Linked DNA regions of Homo sapiens: region 2 is linked to region 1. The links come from fine-mapping of genetic effects on gene expression. A gene starts in region 1. The other region holds a variant in brackets. All regions are shown on one strand. Distances are from middle to middle. Region 1 holds the start of CXCR1 (C-X-C motif chemokine receptor 1). Region 2 overlaps CXCR2 (C-X-C motif chemokine receptor 2).

Region 1 (8,385 bases):
AGCATCCTATTACAAACACTTTTCTATAGCATTAATTATAGCTGTACATTATTTTAAATAGAAGCATGGTATTCCATTTTATAAATCCAGTATAATTTGTATAAACATTTTTTGAAGAACATTGAGATTATTGCTGTTTTATTATTATAAACAACCCTGTGATAAACTTACTTTCCTTCCTTCCTCCTTTCTTTCCTTCCTTCCTTCCTTCTTTCCTTTCTTCCTTCCCTCCCTCTCTCCTCTTCCTCCCTTCCTCCCTTCCCTCTTTTAGTGGAATTTCAGCATCAAAGGTTCTGCATTTTTTGGTGTGTTCGATACACAGCTCCCCCACGGGACCATGGGGGTTGTGTACAAAATAAATAAATAAATAAATAAATAAATAAATAAATAAATAAATAAAGTGATCATAAGAGCCTGGGCAACATAGCAAGACCCTCATCTCTACAAAAGTGTTTTAATTATCTGGTTGTGGTGGCACACACCTATAGTCCCAGCTACATGGGAGGCTGAGGCAAGAGGATCGCTTGAGCCCAGGAGTTCAAGGCTGCAGTGAGCTATGATCACTCCACTGCACTCCAGCCTGGGAGACAGAGTGATGTCCTGTCCTGAAAGAAAGAAAAATAAAGGAAAGTGGGCATCTGAGCACTCATTTGAAGGAAATCCTCCGGAATCGATTCAGAAATCCTCATGAAGTACCCAGAATTCCCTGCTTTGGAGCCAGCCAGACCAGGATGAACTAAAAGTGACTGAACACTTATTATCTGCCAACCACTTTACATATATTAACTAATTGATCCTGATGCCAATCCTATAAACTAGGTCCTACTTTTATTATCCTTTTGCAGGTGAGAAAACTGAGGCACAGAGTGAGCATCTAAGCTGCCCAAGGGCACACATCTAGCCAGGGACAGAGTTGGGATTTGTACCAGCTGGTTTGGAGCTCAAGCCTTCCATCATCACAACAGCTTGGAGAGGTAAGTATTATTATCCCCGTTTTTATAGATAAGGATATTTTGATAAATGTTAAGAGATGCCACAATTTGCCAGTTGACTGGCATTCAGGCTGCACCTGTCACGGCTTTCTTCGTGGCACTGGGTGTTCTGCATAGAATAGAAAAATGCTTTCCTATCACCACCCAAGATCACAAACTAGTAAAGAAGAGCCAGTATTTCCATCCTGGTCTGTCTGACTTCAAAGCAAGGAATTCTGGGTCCTTCATGCGGATTTTCTGAATCCATTCCGGAGCGTTTCCTTCAGATGAGTGCTCAGACGCTCACTTTCCTTTTTTAATTTTTCTTTCTTTCAGGACAGTACATCACTCTGTCTTCCAGGCTGGAGTGCAGTGGAGTGATCGTAGCTCACTGCAGCCTCGAACTCCTGGGCTCAAGCGACCCTCTTGCCTCAGCTTTCCATGTAGCTGGGACTATAGGTGTGTGCTAGTACATCCAGATAATTAAAACATTTTTGTAGAGATGGGTGTCACTACGTTGCCCAGGCTCACTTTATTTATTTATTTAGAGACAGGATCTCACTTCATCACCCAGGCTGGAGTGCAGTGGTGTGATCATAGCTCATTGTAGCCTTGACCTTTCTGGCTTAAGTGATCCTCCTGCCTCACCCTCCCTAATAGCTGGGACTACAGGCACACACCACCATGCCCAGCTAATTTTTACTTTTACTTTTTATTTTTAGAGAGATAGGTCTTGCTATGTTGCCCAGGCTTGTCTTGAACTCCTGAACTCAAGCAATCCTCCCACATTGGCCTCTCAAAGTGTTGGGATTACAGGCATAAGCCACCATGCCTGGCCTATTTATTTATTTGTTAATTTTTTTAAAAAAAATTGAGATTGCAGGAAATAATTTTTAAATTTAATTTTAGTTTTAAAACGGAGATTGCAGGAAACAAATATGCTCACTTTTCAAGGTCCTTCTCTGGCTTCCTCTGGAGACTGGAGATCAGGGCTGGGAGGTCTGCACCTGGCTAGGTCACGTGTCTGTCAATGCCCCTGTATCTTTACCACTGCAGCCTTGACCCAGTGTCTCACTGACACTACTCCCTGCTCCTCTCATCCTAGACCACATTTGGTTTCCAGAACTCTCACAGTTGGGCATGTTTTGGTTGCTGGTAACAGAAAAGTCAACTTAAACTGGTCTTAACAATAAAGACAATTTATTGGCTCATGGAACCGAAGAAAGTACAGAGAGAAGATGGCCTCTGGGCATGGTTTGTTCAGGACTCTTGGTCTGTTTCTCTGATTCTCTCAACTCTGCCTTCTTCTGTGTGTTGGTTTTTTCCTTGGACTGTTTTTGCCATTTATGGTAGCAAAATGGCTGCTGACTGCAACAAGACTATATACTTGCTTTTCCACATTCATTGAGCAAACATCTGAACTTTGCTCTGACTGGATCATCTTGGGTCACAGACTCACTCCCTGAGCCTGTTGCTGTGGTTACGAGGACGTCACTGGGGAGAGAGGAGAAACCTCCCTCTACCCCTTTCCTCTACTTTGATCCCAGATCCAAGTGGATTCTTCTGGAGGAATGAGAAGAGATGCTGAAGCTGGCATAAGGCTGATGCAGGGACAAAATAGATGTTCTTACAGCCACATTGTGCTGTTCACATGGTCTGTGCAGAAGTCATCATGTTTAAAACAGAGTGGTAAGAAGATGTCACCCAAAGAGATACTACATTTTGCCAGTTGACTGGCATTCGGGCTGCACCTGTCACAGCTTTCTTTGTGGCATTAGGAGCTCTACATGGAATGGAAAAATGCTTCTCAGCAGGAACATTCTAGGCCATTTTAAGAGGGCACAGTTATAAGTGGGAAGTGAGGTATAGAAGATAGGTTGGGTGGGCTGACTTGCTGGAACATTTTGAAGTGGGTAAAATTTTATTCTAAACTCATCTATATGTGCTTTCTCCCTCCTTCAGTGAAATGCTCGTCCTACTGCGAAGTGAAAGGTTCTTTCCACCCTTGTCCTCCAGATGCAACTTCTCCTGGAGACCCCAGCATTGCTGTTGCCCTCACCACACTCATGCAGCAGGGCTGCTCCCCTTCACTCCTCGGGCTCCAGGAGACCAGCCTCTTCCCTAACCCCTCAGTGATTCCTTGAAATAGACTGGAATAGTGAACCGACTTACTGAGGGTTTAGGAAAAGCAGAAGGGAACTATACACCAAGAAGAACTTAACATACGGTGTTAAATATACCTGCTCTTGGCCCTGGTCTTTCTCAAGGGGGTGTCTCACAGGGGATTCCCTGTCTAGCAACTGCTGCCCCCTTGTGGCAAAAACTATCCTTCTCCCGGCCTCAGGGTCTTTCTTGAGTATAGGCAGGTGTTTTGCAGTCTAGGCCCCCGTCTTTTTTCTCCTGTGTCCCCAGTGACTATTTTCTGCCCTTGGGGCTGATTTTCCCTAGATGATTAATAGAGGGAGTCTCCCACCTCCTGGGACTACCCCATCTTTGACTCCTTTCTAGTCTAGGCGTTAGAGCACAATAGTCCAACATCAGTAAAAGCAAAGCATGAGTGGCTATTGTCCCCTTACACTTCCTGTTACCATCTATGAATGATAAAAGAGCCCAGGAGGAAAGCACAACTTAGCTTAAAAAATAGGCTTGCCGGCTGGGCATGGTGGCTTATGCCTGTAATCCCAGTGCTTTGGGAGGCAAAGGCAGGAGGATCACTAGAGGCTAGGAGTTCAAGATAAGCCTGGGCAGTATATCAGGACCCTTTCTCTACAAATAAATAAATAACTAAATAAAAAATAAAAATAAAAATATAATATAAAAAAAGAAAGCCAGATGTAGTGGCTCTTGCCTGTAGTCCCAGCTATTCAGGAGGTTGAGGTGGGAGGATTGCTTGAGCCCAGGCATTTGAGGTTACACTGAGCTATGATCACACCACTGCATTCTAGCCTTGGCAACACAGTGAGAGCCTGTCTCTTAAAAAAAGAAAAAAATTCTTTCCAGTGCAGAACTGTAGGAATCCATGGCATGGTAAATTTGGCATTTGTGGTAGGGCAGGATTTATACTTGCACAGACTGGCATTAGCTCCAAACATTAGAGGAAGGTTGGAAAGAAGCAATGCCAGGCAGACCAACTGGGCTGTGTGGAAGTGAAGCTATCAGGCATACCAGTGACTTTAGTGTGTAGCCAAAAGCAATAGACACTGAATCGTGGTGGTGACTTATGGTCCATGAATCACAGGAGAAATGTCTCCCTTCATTTATTCCACAACCATTGATTGAGCACCTACTATATTCCCTGAAAGAGAACATAAACATGAATTGAAGAAGGTTCTTGCTGTCTCATGGCTCCCAAGCTAGAAGAGGGCTGACTTGTAAATGCCTCACAGCAGGGTTCATGTTATATGGAGAAGTGACGAAGGTGCCAGAAGACTCAAGCTAGGGGACAGCCATTAGCTGCTGGAGGCAGCTAAGGTGGGTTCCCAGAGAAGCCATTCTCCGTTACTGAGATGGGGGCTGCAGTGACCTTGACCACAGCTCTTCCATTCATGGACTGCCCCAGCTCTGTGGTCTCTCTGCTAACCAGCCAGACTCTGGGAGTGGCCTATGCCGTCAGCCTCAGGGCCATTTAAACCAACTGGTCATTGGCAGTGATTGTGCGAAAGAGTGGCTGGCGGCAAAGGAGGGTTTGTGTTCCATTCAAATACCCTCAAAAAGCCTGAAAAATAAGTAGAGATTGAGGCCAGGCCTTGGAGTTGTGGAAGGTGGAGAACACTGGGAAGCCAACCTCCAAAGAAGACCAGGTTGGAGGCAAAGGAGGAAGGGGAGCTCTCGTTGGCAAACCAACAGGGAAGCCAAGGATATCCCAGTAACTGCTCTCACATCCTTGATGAGAATGCCTTGAATCCGAGCTAGGCCACCTCAAAGAAGCCTGCAAAATAAGTAGAGATTGAGTGCCTGCTGTTCAAACACAACTCAAGCGCAGTCCTCCTCCTCTTTCCCACTGGATTGCCCCCAAGTCCCTCCTATGGGGGACTCCTTCTGAAGTCTCTGCTGTAAGTCAAATCCTTCGCCCTTTATACTTGGTCAGGAAGTTGCAAGCTTCCACAGGTGATATACTAGGGAATTTAGGAATAAACAAATGGAAATAAATTCAAGAAAAGGAAAATAATAAAAATGATCATCCATAGAGTGGAGAATTCAGATAATGGACCCTCAACCCCAGCTTCACACCTGGGACCCCCACTTGGTCATATGGACCCTGGCAGTCTCTAATCACAAGTCTGTGATCCCTTGACTTAAACTGTTCTTCCCCAAATGTAGACATGGGTGGGGCTCAGAAGGGAGGTGTCATCTGATGTGGTTTCCTTATTTCCGTTTATTCATCAAGTGCCCTCTAGCTGTTAAGTCACTCTGATCTCTGACTGCAGCTCCTACTGTTGGACACACCTGGCCGGTGCTTCAGGTAGGAAGCCACCTCTGTTTGCTAGGACTTTCTGTGGGGTAGGGCTGCTTGGCTTGACTTTATTTTGGAAAATGTATTCATTTCTGTGGGAGCTGAGGATTTCTGCTGCCCGCTTCCTCTCTTGTGACCACCACTCATACATGGAGTTAGCAGGTGAAGAGGACAGCCTCCTCATCCCCTCTTTTTATACCTTGCCCTTTTGTGGGAAGAGGCTGACCATTCCCCAATTTGATGTTTATTGCTTCACCTTAAGACTTTGTCTTCAGTGAAAATGCAAATACTGGTAGGGAGGGAACACACTAAAATGTGTGGATCTGAGTGGACTCATCATACACCCTCAGGCCTGGCAGCAAATGAGAGGTGGATGATTCTGTCTTCCTCGATTTGCAGATGAGAAGACTGAAATCTATAGGGGTACGAGACCCCACTCAAGGTCATGAGACTTATTTATTTATTTATTTATTTATTTTGAGATGGAGTCTCACTCTGTCGCCTAGGCTGTAGTACTGTGGCACGATCTCGGCTCACTGCAACCTCCATTTCCCGGGTTCAAGTGATTCTCCTGCCTCAGCCTCCTGAGTAGTTGGGATTACAGGTGCACGCCACCACACCCAGCTAATTTTTTTGTATTTTTAGTAGAGACGGGGTTTCATCATTTTGGTCAGGCTGGTCTCGAACTCCTGACTTCATGATCTGCCTGCCTTGGCCTCCCAAAGGGCTGGGATTACACACGAAACTTATTAATGGTAGAATCAGGATGGAATGAAGACTGGATGCTAGGTGTCTTTACAACCAACCTCGGTGACTTTCCAAAGGCTTTCAGACTTCTCTGGAGAGTCCTGGAGCTTTGAGGGGCTCTTTAGGGGCCATCTGGGTTCGGAGATTAGCACACTCTGCCCCACAGTGGCTCAGCTTTTATCTGCTTCACATACTGGGCTTCTGGGAAGATCTTATTTCAGTAAACTATTTCACAATAGGAAATATATTTGAAAACTCTTGAATGATTCTGTGGATTTTTTCAGGGGTGGAGGGTTTCAGGGACCAAGATGGAGACTTTATCTTCTCAAATACTTAAAACTCCTTTAGACAGAGGAACAAAATATGTGCTCCTCATTTAAAGAAGGCTTAAAATATACAGTTTAATGCAATGTGTTGTTATCACTTCCTTCCCCCAGTAGATTTTAAGGAGGGTAAACAAGAATCAGGGAGAACATAGGAATAGAAATAGTAGAAGGGGACACCTGGGAACAGGTTTGCCTTCTTGCATTTTGCTTAATGCTGGCCCTTCCCTGAATGTCTAAGACCAACCTGGTCCCCACATCCAAATGCACAGACACAGCTGAGGATGGAGAAGGCTAAAGAGGGACAGAGGTAGAGACATAGGCTGAGAGGAGGCAGTTGTAGGTTGAGCTAGGGCTAAGGTGTTTTCCCCATATTCCATCTTACCCCACACTCAGGCCAGGCCTTAGAGTTGTGGAAGGTGGAGAACACTGGGAAGCCAACCTCCGAAGAAGACCAGGTTGGAGTCAAAGGAGGAAGGAGAGCTCTCATTGCCAAACCAACAGGGAAGCCAAGGATATCCCAGTAACTGCTCTCACATCATTGATGAGAATGCCTTGAATCCGAGCTACTAAATCACATTTCCTTCCTTCTAACCTTCCAGTTAGATCAAACCATTGCTGAAACTGAAGAGGACATGTCAAATATTACAGATCCACAGATGTGGGATTTTGATGATCTAAATTTCACTGGCATGCCACCTGCAGATGAAGATTACAGCCCCTGTATGCTAGAAACTGAGACACTCAACAAGTATGTTGTGATCATCGCCTATGCCCTAGTGTTCCTGCTGAGCCTGCTGGGAAACTCCCTGGTGATGCTGGTCATCTTATACAGCAGGGTCGGCCGCTCCGTCACTGATGTCTACCTGCTGAACCTGGCCTTGGCCGACCTACTCTTTGCCCTGACCTTGCCCATCTGGGCCGCCTCCAAGGTGAATGGCTGGATTTTTGGCACATTCCTGTGCAAGGTGGTCTCACTCCTGAAGGAAGTCAACTTCTACAGTGGCATCCTGCTGTTGGCCTGCATCAGTGTGGACCGTTACCTGGCCATTGTCCATGCCACACGCACACTGACCCAGAAGCGTCACTTGGTCAAGTTTGTTTGTCTTGGCTGCTGGGGACTGTCTATGAATCTGTCCCTGCCCTTCTTCCTTTTCCGCCAGGCTTACCATCCAAACAATTCCAGTCCAGTTTGCTATGAGGTCCTGGGAAATGACACAGCAAAATGGCGGATGGTGTTGCGGATCCTGCCTCACACCTTTGGCTTCATCGTGCCGCTGTTTGTCATGCTGTTCTGCTATGGATTCACCCTGCGTACACTGTTTAAGGCCCACATGGGGCAGAAGCACCGAGCCATGAGGGTCATCTTTGCTGTCGTCCTCATCTTCCTGCTTTGCTGGCTGCCCTACAACCTGGTCCTGCTGGCAGACACCCTCATGAGGACCCAGGTGATCCAGGAGAGCTGTGAGCGCCGCAACAACATCGGCCGGGCCCTGGATGCCACTGAGATTCTGGGATTTCTCCATAGCTGCCTCAACCCCATCATCTACGCCTTCATCGGCCAAAATTTTCGCCATGGATTCCTCAAGATCCTGGCTATGCATGGCCTGGTCAGCAAGGAGTTCTTGGCACGTCATCGTGTTACCTCCTACACTTCTTCGTCTGTCAATGTCTCTTCCAACCTCTGAAAACCATCGATGAAGGAATATCTCTTCTCAGAAGGAAAGAATAACCAACACCCTGAGGTTGTGTGTGGAAGGTGATCTGGCTCTGGACAGGCACTATCTGGGTTTTGGGGGGACGCTATAGGATGTGGGGAAGTTAGGAACTGGTGTCTTCAGGGGCCACACCAACCTTCTGAGGAGCTGTTGAGGTACCTCCAAGGACCGGC
Region 2 (8,392 bases), 33 kb after region 1:
TTAACTGTGCTGCCTGCCAGCCAAGAATAGGAGAACCCAGCCTGAGGCTGCTCCCACACCTGTGCCCCTGAGCCTCCTCTGGGCCTCGCTGACTGAGACTCCAGCAACCCCAGCTCCAGGCACAGATGAGTGCAGGTGCAGAAAATGTAGACTGGTCTTACCCGTGTGAGTGAAATGGTCTGAAAAGGTCATGTCTACATGTAATTTTCCATCTTGTCTGTCAGGTGCTCGAACCGAAAAGCGAAATATTTGGTAAAAAACGAACTGACTAGGAATCTTATTTCAGCTCCACTACTGTCTAGCCATGAGATTTTGGCCAGGTTGCTTTGGTAAAGCCTCAGTTTCCTCGTTTATGTATGGAAATGGGGACTTCAGGCCTCTTTGACAGACCGAGAAGGCAGATCAGGCAGAAAGGTGCTGGACCCTGAGACCTTGGGACTCAGGATCAGAAACATCAGAGGGAAGAAAGAAGTCAACAACTCAAAGGCAATCCCCAGACTCGCCTGTCCTAGGGATGGCGTGTTTGGTAAATTATTTGTGCCAAGACTGTTCTTATGAGAGAGAGTCTGAAAGAGAGAGAGAGAGACAGAGAGAGAGAGAGAGAGAGAGAGAGAGAGAGAGGAGATAGAGATGAATAACAGAGTTCACGTAAGCATAATTTAATCTCTGCCTCATTTTCCTAGGCTGATGGTATCCTTTTATTATCCTTGGAGAACCATGTTTCCTCCAGTCCTTGTGAGAGGAAAGAGCAGAGTCCTGAAACCAGAGTGAGGTGTAATTTGGCCTCTTCCCTCTGGGAGTCATCTCAGGGAGCCACCTGGTCCATCAGCCTTGTCCAGGCAGAGCACCATTGGTTCCTCTGGCAAGTCAGGTCCTTGGTAAATACACGTTCCCCTGCATTTCCCTGCTACTGAATCAGAAGCTGTTCCGAAGACTCAGCCAGAGCAGTTGAGTCGTGCTTGGTCCCGAGTTTAGCAAGTACCCAGCATAGAATGAGCAGGAAAGAAGGGATTGTTGTTGCTGAATGCAATAGGAAAGGCACTTCTGTGGCTTTTGAGTGGAAGTTCTCTGCCCCTCAAGCCCTCCCACTCAGAGGTGTGCTCCTGCCTCCCTGTTTTCCCCTAGATTTAGTTGTTAACCTGAAGGGGGTTGTTTGGGAACTGCGGACGTTCAGTTCCTCTTGCCTCCTTCCTTCCTTCTCAGGCTGCTCAGACCCAGAGCCCCTCTTGACAAAGACCCTGCAGAGACAAGCCCTAGGAATGTGAGCTCCCCCAGGGCAAGGCACTGTCTGTCGTGGTCTCTGCTGTATCCCCCCACTCTCCGAACAGTCAGCACTCCATGCTGTTGGAGGCATGATTCGAATCTTTTGTTTTCTCCTAATGACAGATTATAAACCACTTCCCCATTCTGCATTTGGGCTGTCCTGTCAAACCTGGAATGATGGGTGTGTGTTTGGGTGGAAGAGAGGGAAGAGGATAGGGCACTCACAGTGGGTGCTGCTGGTTGAGCTGGGAGAGCTCTCTGCCTTCCTGCTACCTGATCAGGGGGATTTGGTAAACTTACTCAACCCTCTGCACCTTCTAACTCTAAGTCTCACCCCTGACACTCCTGACTACTGCCTCACCCAACGACACGAGACGCCCTAGAGCATCCCAGAATGCATTTCTTTCCATGATGTGTGGTCTACAGCAGGAAGCTTGGGTTGGGGGTGAGGGGATGGCAAGGCTGGGCTCCATCTCTATTCCATCCTTTTCTCTATGACACAGCAAATAACAAAGAGATTTACTTCTTGTAAAGACTCTCACCCAAGACCTCCACTCACCCTTGCCCCACCACTCTGTAGCAATTTGGAAGCAGTAATATAAACACCCAAGTAAAAATGGTTTATTAAAAAAAAGATATTGAATGAAATCATTTAACAAAAAATATAGGCAGGTGGTTCTAGCCTTGGTTTAATCAGCCTTGGTGATTAAAATACCTTTTGGGGCTCAGGTTTTTTTTTAAATTGATATAAAATATACATAACAAAATTGACCATTTAAACCATTTTTAAGTGTCAATTTAGTGGCATTAAGTCACATTGCGGTACAACTATCACTACTGTTTATCTGCAGAACTTTTTCAACATCCTAAACATAAACCCTGTGCCCATTAAACCGTCACTTCCCATGCTCCCCTCCCCTCAGTCCCTGGTAATCACTGTTCTGCTTTCTGTCTCTGTAAATTTGTTCACTCTCAGTACCTCATGTAGGTGGAATCATAAACTATTTATCTGTTGATGTCTGGCTTATTTCACTTAGCATAAAGTTTTCAAGGTTCGTCCGTGTTGTAACATGTATGAGTACTTCATTCCTCTTTCAGGCTGAAGGATACTTCGTTAGGTACATATCACATTTTGCTTAGCCATTCATTCATTCATTGATGAACATTTGGGTTGCTTCTGCCTTTTGGGTCTTGTGAATAAGCTGCTATGAATATTGGTGTACAAATATGGGTTCAAGTCCCTGCTTTCATTTCTTGTGGGTCAATTCCTATAAGTGGAATTGCAGGATCATGTGTTAATTCTATGTCTGAAGTTTTGAGGAAAGCTGCCATACTGTCTTCTGCAGTGGTCACACCATTTTACAATCCCCCCCAGCAACGCTCGAGAGTTCCAGTTTCTCCTCTACATCTTCATGGACTGAGACAGAGTCTCACTGTCGCTCAGGCTGGAGTGCAGGGGCACAATCTCGGCTCACTGCAACCTCTGCCTCCCGGGTTCAAGTGATTCTCCCATCTCAGCCTCCCAAGTAGCTGTGATTACAGGCACTCACCACCACGCCCGGCTAATTTTTTTTTTTTTTTGTATTTTTAGTAGAGACAGGGTTTCACCCCGTTGGCCAGCCTGATTTTCTTTCTTTTGATACTAGCCATCCTAATGAGTATGCAGAGCTGTCTCACTGGAGTGTAGATTTTCACTTCTTAGAACATAGAGTGCCATGGGCTCAGGGGCAGGATGGGCAGAGCTCCAGCAAATGACATAGTAATTATGGCAAGGGGTGAGGCACCAGGGCAAGCTTTCTAAACCATGCAAGGGAAACTAGTAAGAACGTGGCCTCCTCTACTTCCTGTGACCACAATGGGGGCTGCATTGACACTGAGACCAAGAAGAACCAGTGGACATGAGGCTTGGAATGTGACTGTGAAGAGAAGGGAGGAACCCCACGGGGCTGCACTTAGGCAGGAGGTCTTAGAGAGTAGTGGAAGTGTGCCCTGAAGAAGAGCCAACAAAGGAAGGCCTGCTGTCTTTGGGCAGGGAGTCCTTGCTGATCAAGCCATGTATAGCTAGAATCTTGAGGAGTCCATGGCGAAACTTCTGGCCAATGAAGGCGTAGATGAGGGGGTTGAGGCAGCTGTGAAGGATGCCCAGAATCTCGGTGGCATCCAGAGCCCGGTCGATGTGATTGCGGCGCTCACAGGTCTCCTGGATCACCTGGGTCCTCATGAGGGTGTCTGCCAGCAGGACCAGGTTGTAGGGCAGCCAGCA[G/A]AGCAGGAAGATGAGGACGACAGCAAAGATGACCCGCATGGCCCGGTGCTTCTGCCCCATGTGGGCCTTAAACAGCGTACGCAGGGTGAATCCGTAGCAGAACAGCATGATCAGCAGTGGCACGATGAAGCCAAAGGACTGGGGCAGGATCCGTAACAGCATCCGCCAGTTTGCTGTATTGTTGCCCATGTCCTCATAGCAGGCTGGGCTAACATTGGATGAGTAGACGGTCCTTCGGAAAAGTAAGACAGGCAGGGCCAGGAGCAAGGACAGACCCCAGATGCTGAGACATATGAATTTGACCAAGTAGCGCTTCTGGGTCAGTGTGCGTGTGGCATGGACAATGGCCAGGTAACGGTCCACACTGATGCAGGCCAGTAGCAGGATGCCACTATAGAAGTTGACTTCCTTCAGGAGTGAGACCACCTTGCACAGGAATGTGCCAAAAATCCAGCCATTCACCTTGGAGGCGGCCCAGATGGGCAAGGTCAGGGCAAAGAGTAGGTCGGCCAAGGCTAGGTTCAGCAGGTAGACATCAGTGACGGAGCGGCCGACCCTGCTGTATAAGATGACCAGCATCACGAGGGAGTTTCCCAGCAGGCTCAGCAGGAATACCAGGGCATAGATAATGACCACAAAATACTTGTTGATTTCCAGGGATTCTGGTTCACATGGGGCGGCATCTAGTAGAAAAGGGGGCAGGGTAGAGCTGTAACTGTAATTACTAAGATCTTCACCTTTCCAGAAATCTTCAAAGCTGTCACTCTCCATGTTAAAATCTTCCATTTTTGAGGTAAACTTAAATCCTGACCTATAGAAGAGAGATGAAGGTTACTGCATAATAAATTCCCCATATTCTTGCCCATCCACTCAAGAAACTGGGATAGGATTCTTTGTGTTGGCTTGAGTATTACAATGTAGTAATTTTTCCCTTCAAATTTGTAAGTGGTAGCTCTTAGGTTATGAGATAAATTTGGTGATAAATGGTACATTTTATGAGAGGACCATAGTTCTCTTTAATATAAGAGAGAAATTCTTAGCATTTCTTTTAGCATCGCCATCACCTAAAACTTTGTAGAAAGTTCTCTTTGGATAATCCCCACAGAACCCTCAATACTACCTGGATCCTTCAGTGGCGAGCATCTTTGGCTATCAAGGCTGGGTTTAATGTTCAGAAATGTGAGATGTGAGATGTCACTCAGTTCTTTTTTTTTTGTCTTAGAGATGGGGACTTGTTATGTTGCTCAGGATGGTCTTAAACTCCTGACCTTAAGTAATTCTCCTGCCTCTGTCTCCCAAAGTGCTGGGAATATAGGCATGAGCCACTGCACTCAGCCCCATTCAGTTTTTAATCAGGGGATTAAGCAGGAACTCCAAATGGGCTATACCCTCAGAAAAGATCATGGTTTGACTATAAAGCTGAGACATGAATCCCTTTGTTCAATTTTCTAAAAGTTATTTTAAAAGATGTATTCTGGAAAATGGTTTGAACAATTGTGGCATGGAGTTTTGGAAGGCTCGAGCTAGCAGAGTCTTCAGTTAATTAGTAAGGCCCAGCGTTTCTCTTTTGGGTAGAAGGAGACCCGCTTTGGGAATGTCTGTGTAGTTTGGAAAAGTATATTAAAAACAATAAGCAAGCGGGCTGCCTGATTCTCCCTGTGGGTGGAAACGTAACAGGTTATTTGGGGAGCTCTGGGCAGCCATGTGCCACCATGCGGGATAAGCAGACACAGCCAGTCTGCTACCCAATAAGAGAGGGGCAGCAGGAAGCAGAGAAGACAGGGTTTGCACTACCCTTGCTTGGTGGCTTTCCAGCCCTGCTGGAGACCCTTCCTGTCCTGCATGTGTGTGCCTCCATCTAGCCTTGACTCCCCTGTTCCTCTCAGATTTAGTCTAGCTCCTGGGGCTCTGCCCTTGCCACAGGGACAGCACAGATCCTGCTCTGGGGAAGCCTGGGTGTGGAGGGTGGGCTGCAGTTATTCAAAAATATTATCCCAGTGGTGGCTCACACCTGTAATCCCAGCACTTTGGGAGGCTGAGGTGGCAGATCACTTGAGGTCAGGAGTTTGAGAGCAGCCTGGCTAACATGGTGAAACACTGTCTCTACTAATAATACAAAAATTAGCCAGGTATGGTGACGTGCACCTGTAATCCCAGCTACTTGGGAGGCTGAGGCACAAGAATTGCTTGAACCCAGGAGGTGGAGGTTGCAGTGAGCCGAAATCACATCACTGCACTCCAGCCTGGGCAACAGAGCGAGACTCTGCCTCAAAAAAAAAAAAAAAAAAAAAAAAAAATCCCAGTTTCTCAAAGCAGTCAACTAAAGCAATCCAGCTCCCTAATTAGCTTCTTTCTGAACCACAAAATAGATCACCCTCCGGCCATTGCCTTAGAGTAAGGGATGACCACCCTACCACCAACCATGTCCAAGTCCGTAATCTACCCCCAAAATGGAACCCAGTGTGAGAGAAAAACCAGGAAGTTAAAGGTCCCAGAACCCACTTCACACTCACCAGGCTGGGCACACTCAGAAAAAGATGCCCAAGAACAATGTGGGTGAGGAAGTGGAAAAGTCAGAACTCTCCCACATTGCAGGTGGGAATGTAAGATGGTGCAGCTGCTTTGGAAAACAGCTTAGCAGTTGCTCAAAAAAGTTAAACATAGAGTTACCACATGAACCAGCAAACCCCAACCTAGGTATACACCCAAGAGAATTGAAAGCTAATGTTCATAGTAGCATTCATCATTAAGGCCAAAAAGTGGAAACAAACCAAATATCCATCAACTGATGAACGGACAGACAAATTGAGGAACAGTCATGAGCAACTGAAAGACTTTTTGGTCAATGACACATCACAAATACCACAGTGGTCCCATAAGATTATAATACTGTATTTTTAGTGTTCTTTTCCTATGTTTATATATAAGAATACCATTGTGTTATAATTACCTACAGTATTTAGTACAGTAACATGCTGAGTAGGTTTGTAGCCTAGGAGCAGTACTCTACCATATAGCCCATGTGTGTAGTAGGCTATAGCATCGTATACTCTACCATGTTCACATGACATATTTCTCAGAATGCATCCGCATTGTTAAGCAACTTATGACTGTATTATGTACAACAGAATATTATTCAGCCATGAGAAGGAATGAGGTACTGATACACAATACAACATGGATGAACCTTGAAAATGTTAGTCTAGGTGAAAAAAGGCAGACACAAAAGTTTTCTTATTGTGTGATTCCATATATGTGAAATGACCAAAATAGGCAAATGGGTAGAATTGGTAGAGACAGAAAGTAGATTGGTGGTTTCCAGGGTCAAGGGGAGCTGGGAGAGGAATGTTAATGACTACGGAGTTTTTCTTTTGAGTGATAAAAGTGTTCTGGAATTAGTGGCAATGGTTGTAGAATATGCTAAAAACTTTAAATGGGTGACTTTTGGGGTATGTGACTTATGTCTTAATTAAAAAAAAGATTAATCAAAGGGTACACGGCCTTGCAAAGCAAATACAAATATTACAAAAATAACAACAAAAGTCCCAGGGAGGATTTCTTTTTAGCAGAAAGGAAGTCTCTGTTGTCATCAATCATATGTAGCAAAGAAGAAAGCTGAAGAAGATTAAGCAAAACTGGAAAAATAATGCCACTTTTCCCCCAAGAGTGATGGAATTCTTAGCCATCACCTTCCTGACAAGTTTTTAGTTTCTCTTTTAAGAGTTAGGGGCCAGATACATTGCCTTCCCAGCATGCCGAGGCAACTGATGGAGAAGATTCAATCAGTTGTAATGTACTATACTAGATCACAACAATAAAAGTTAACATTTGGGCCGGGCGTGGTGGCTCCCAGCACTTTGGGAGGCCGAGATGGGCGGATCATGAGGTCAGGAGATCGAGACCATCCTGGCTAATGCAGTGAAACCCCGTCTCTACTAAAAATACAAAAAATTAGCTGGGCGTGGTGGCGGGCGCCTGTGGTCCCAGCTACTCGGGAGGCTGAGGCAGGAGAACGGTGTGAACCCGGGAAGCGAAGCTTGCAGTGAGCCGAGATGGCGCCACTGCACTCCAGCCTGGGCGACAGAGGAGACTCCGTCTCAAAAAAAAAAAAAAAAAAGTTAACATTGTACTTTATGTATGTCTTACGTAATTTATAAGCAATCCCTCATTTCTGGCCCTGCCTGGCCAGAAGGCTGGGGAGGTATTGAGAGGGCTGGGAATACAGCTTGCTGGACCAGTATGGTCAGCAAGACCTGAAAGAAGTCACCAGCTCCTCAGTCCCATGGTTGAGAGCAAGTTTGCTGAGAGGCCCAGGGTATGTCCAATGAAGTCAAGAGGTCAAGGGTGGATCACTTCTGGGAGCAGATGATTACAGATGCTCTTAAGGGAACAAATGACCCAACAGAAGACCCATCTTTGAGAGTAGATGTAGGGCATATTGGGTGCAGAGAGCTTGTGCTCTTAGAGAGCAGGGCCTTGTATGTATGAATATTGGCTGTGAGAAGCCAGGACTGAGGCTGCTGCAGAAACTGCCATGTCAGCACAGGCAGCAGTGGCAGAGCATGTTTCACAGGTAAATCCTCACTGTGGATAATCCAGTGCTCAGCTGTGCTGGGGGTGGGCTGGAGGTGTATGGGTGAGCTCATGCTCCCAGGCATTATGGGTCAGCTTCAGGTTCCAGAGGGAGAGCATGCAAGTCAGGACAGAAGGTAGAGAACTCAGCAAGGAGAACCAGGTCAGGCCAGTGACCTCCAGCTCCTAGGGTAGGGAGAGGGGTGTTTGTTGTTGGTGTTGTTTTTTAGTTTACCAATCTCTACAGAGGATGACTTGGCAGTTAGAGGGACAAACTAAGGGAAGGAGATGACA

The links. PIP is the estimated chance that this variant, and not a neighbour inherited with it, causes the effect.
Region 2: its variant is fine-mapped to the expression of CXCR1 in whole blood (TOPMed, PIP above 0.99).

The regions. Positions count from the first base shown.
Region 1 is chr2:218,163,956-218,172,340 of GRCh38, reverse strand. CXCR1 (C-X-C motif chemokine receptor 1) reads left to right here and starts at 5,379. Exons shown (of 2, transcript NM_000634.3): 1 at 5,379-5,433; 2 at 7,097-8,385. The coding sequence starts at 7,130. The coding sequence ends at 8,182.
Region 2 is chr2:218,130,722-218,139,113 of GRCh38, reverse strand. CXCR2 (C-X-C motif chemokine receptor 2) reads right to left here. Exons shown (of 3, transcript NM_001557.4): 3 at 1,863-4,337. The coding sequence starts at 4,312. The coding sequence ends at 3,230. Among named protein-coding and RNA genes, the nearest start is that of CXCR2, 8.9 kb to the right of the region's middle. The variant G/A (reference allele first, on the strand shown) is at 3,527.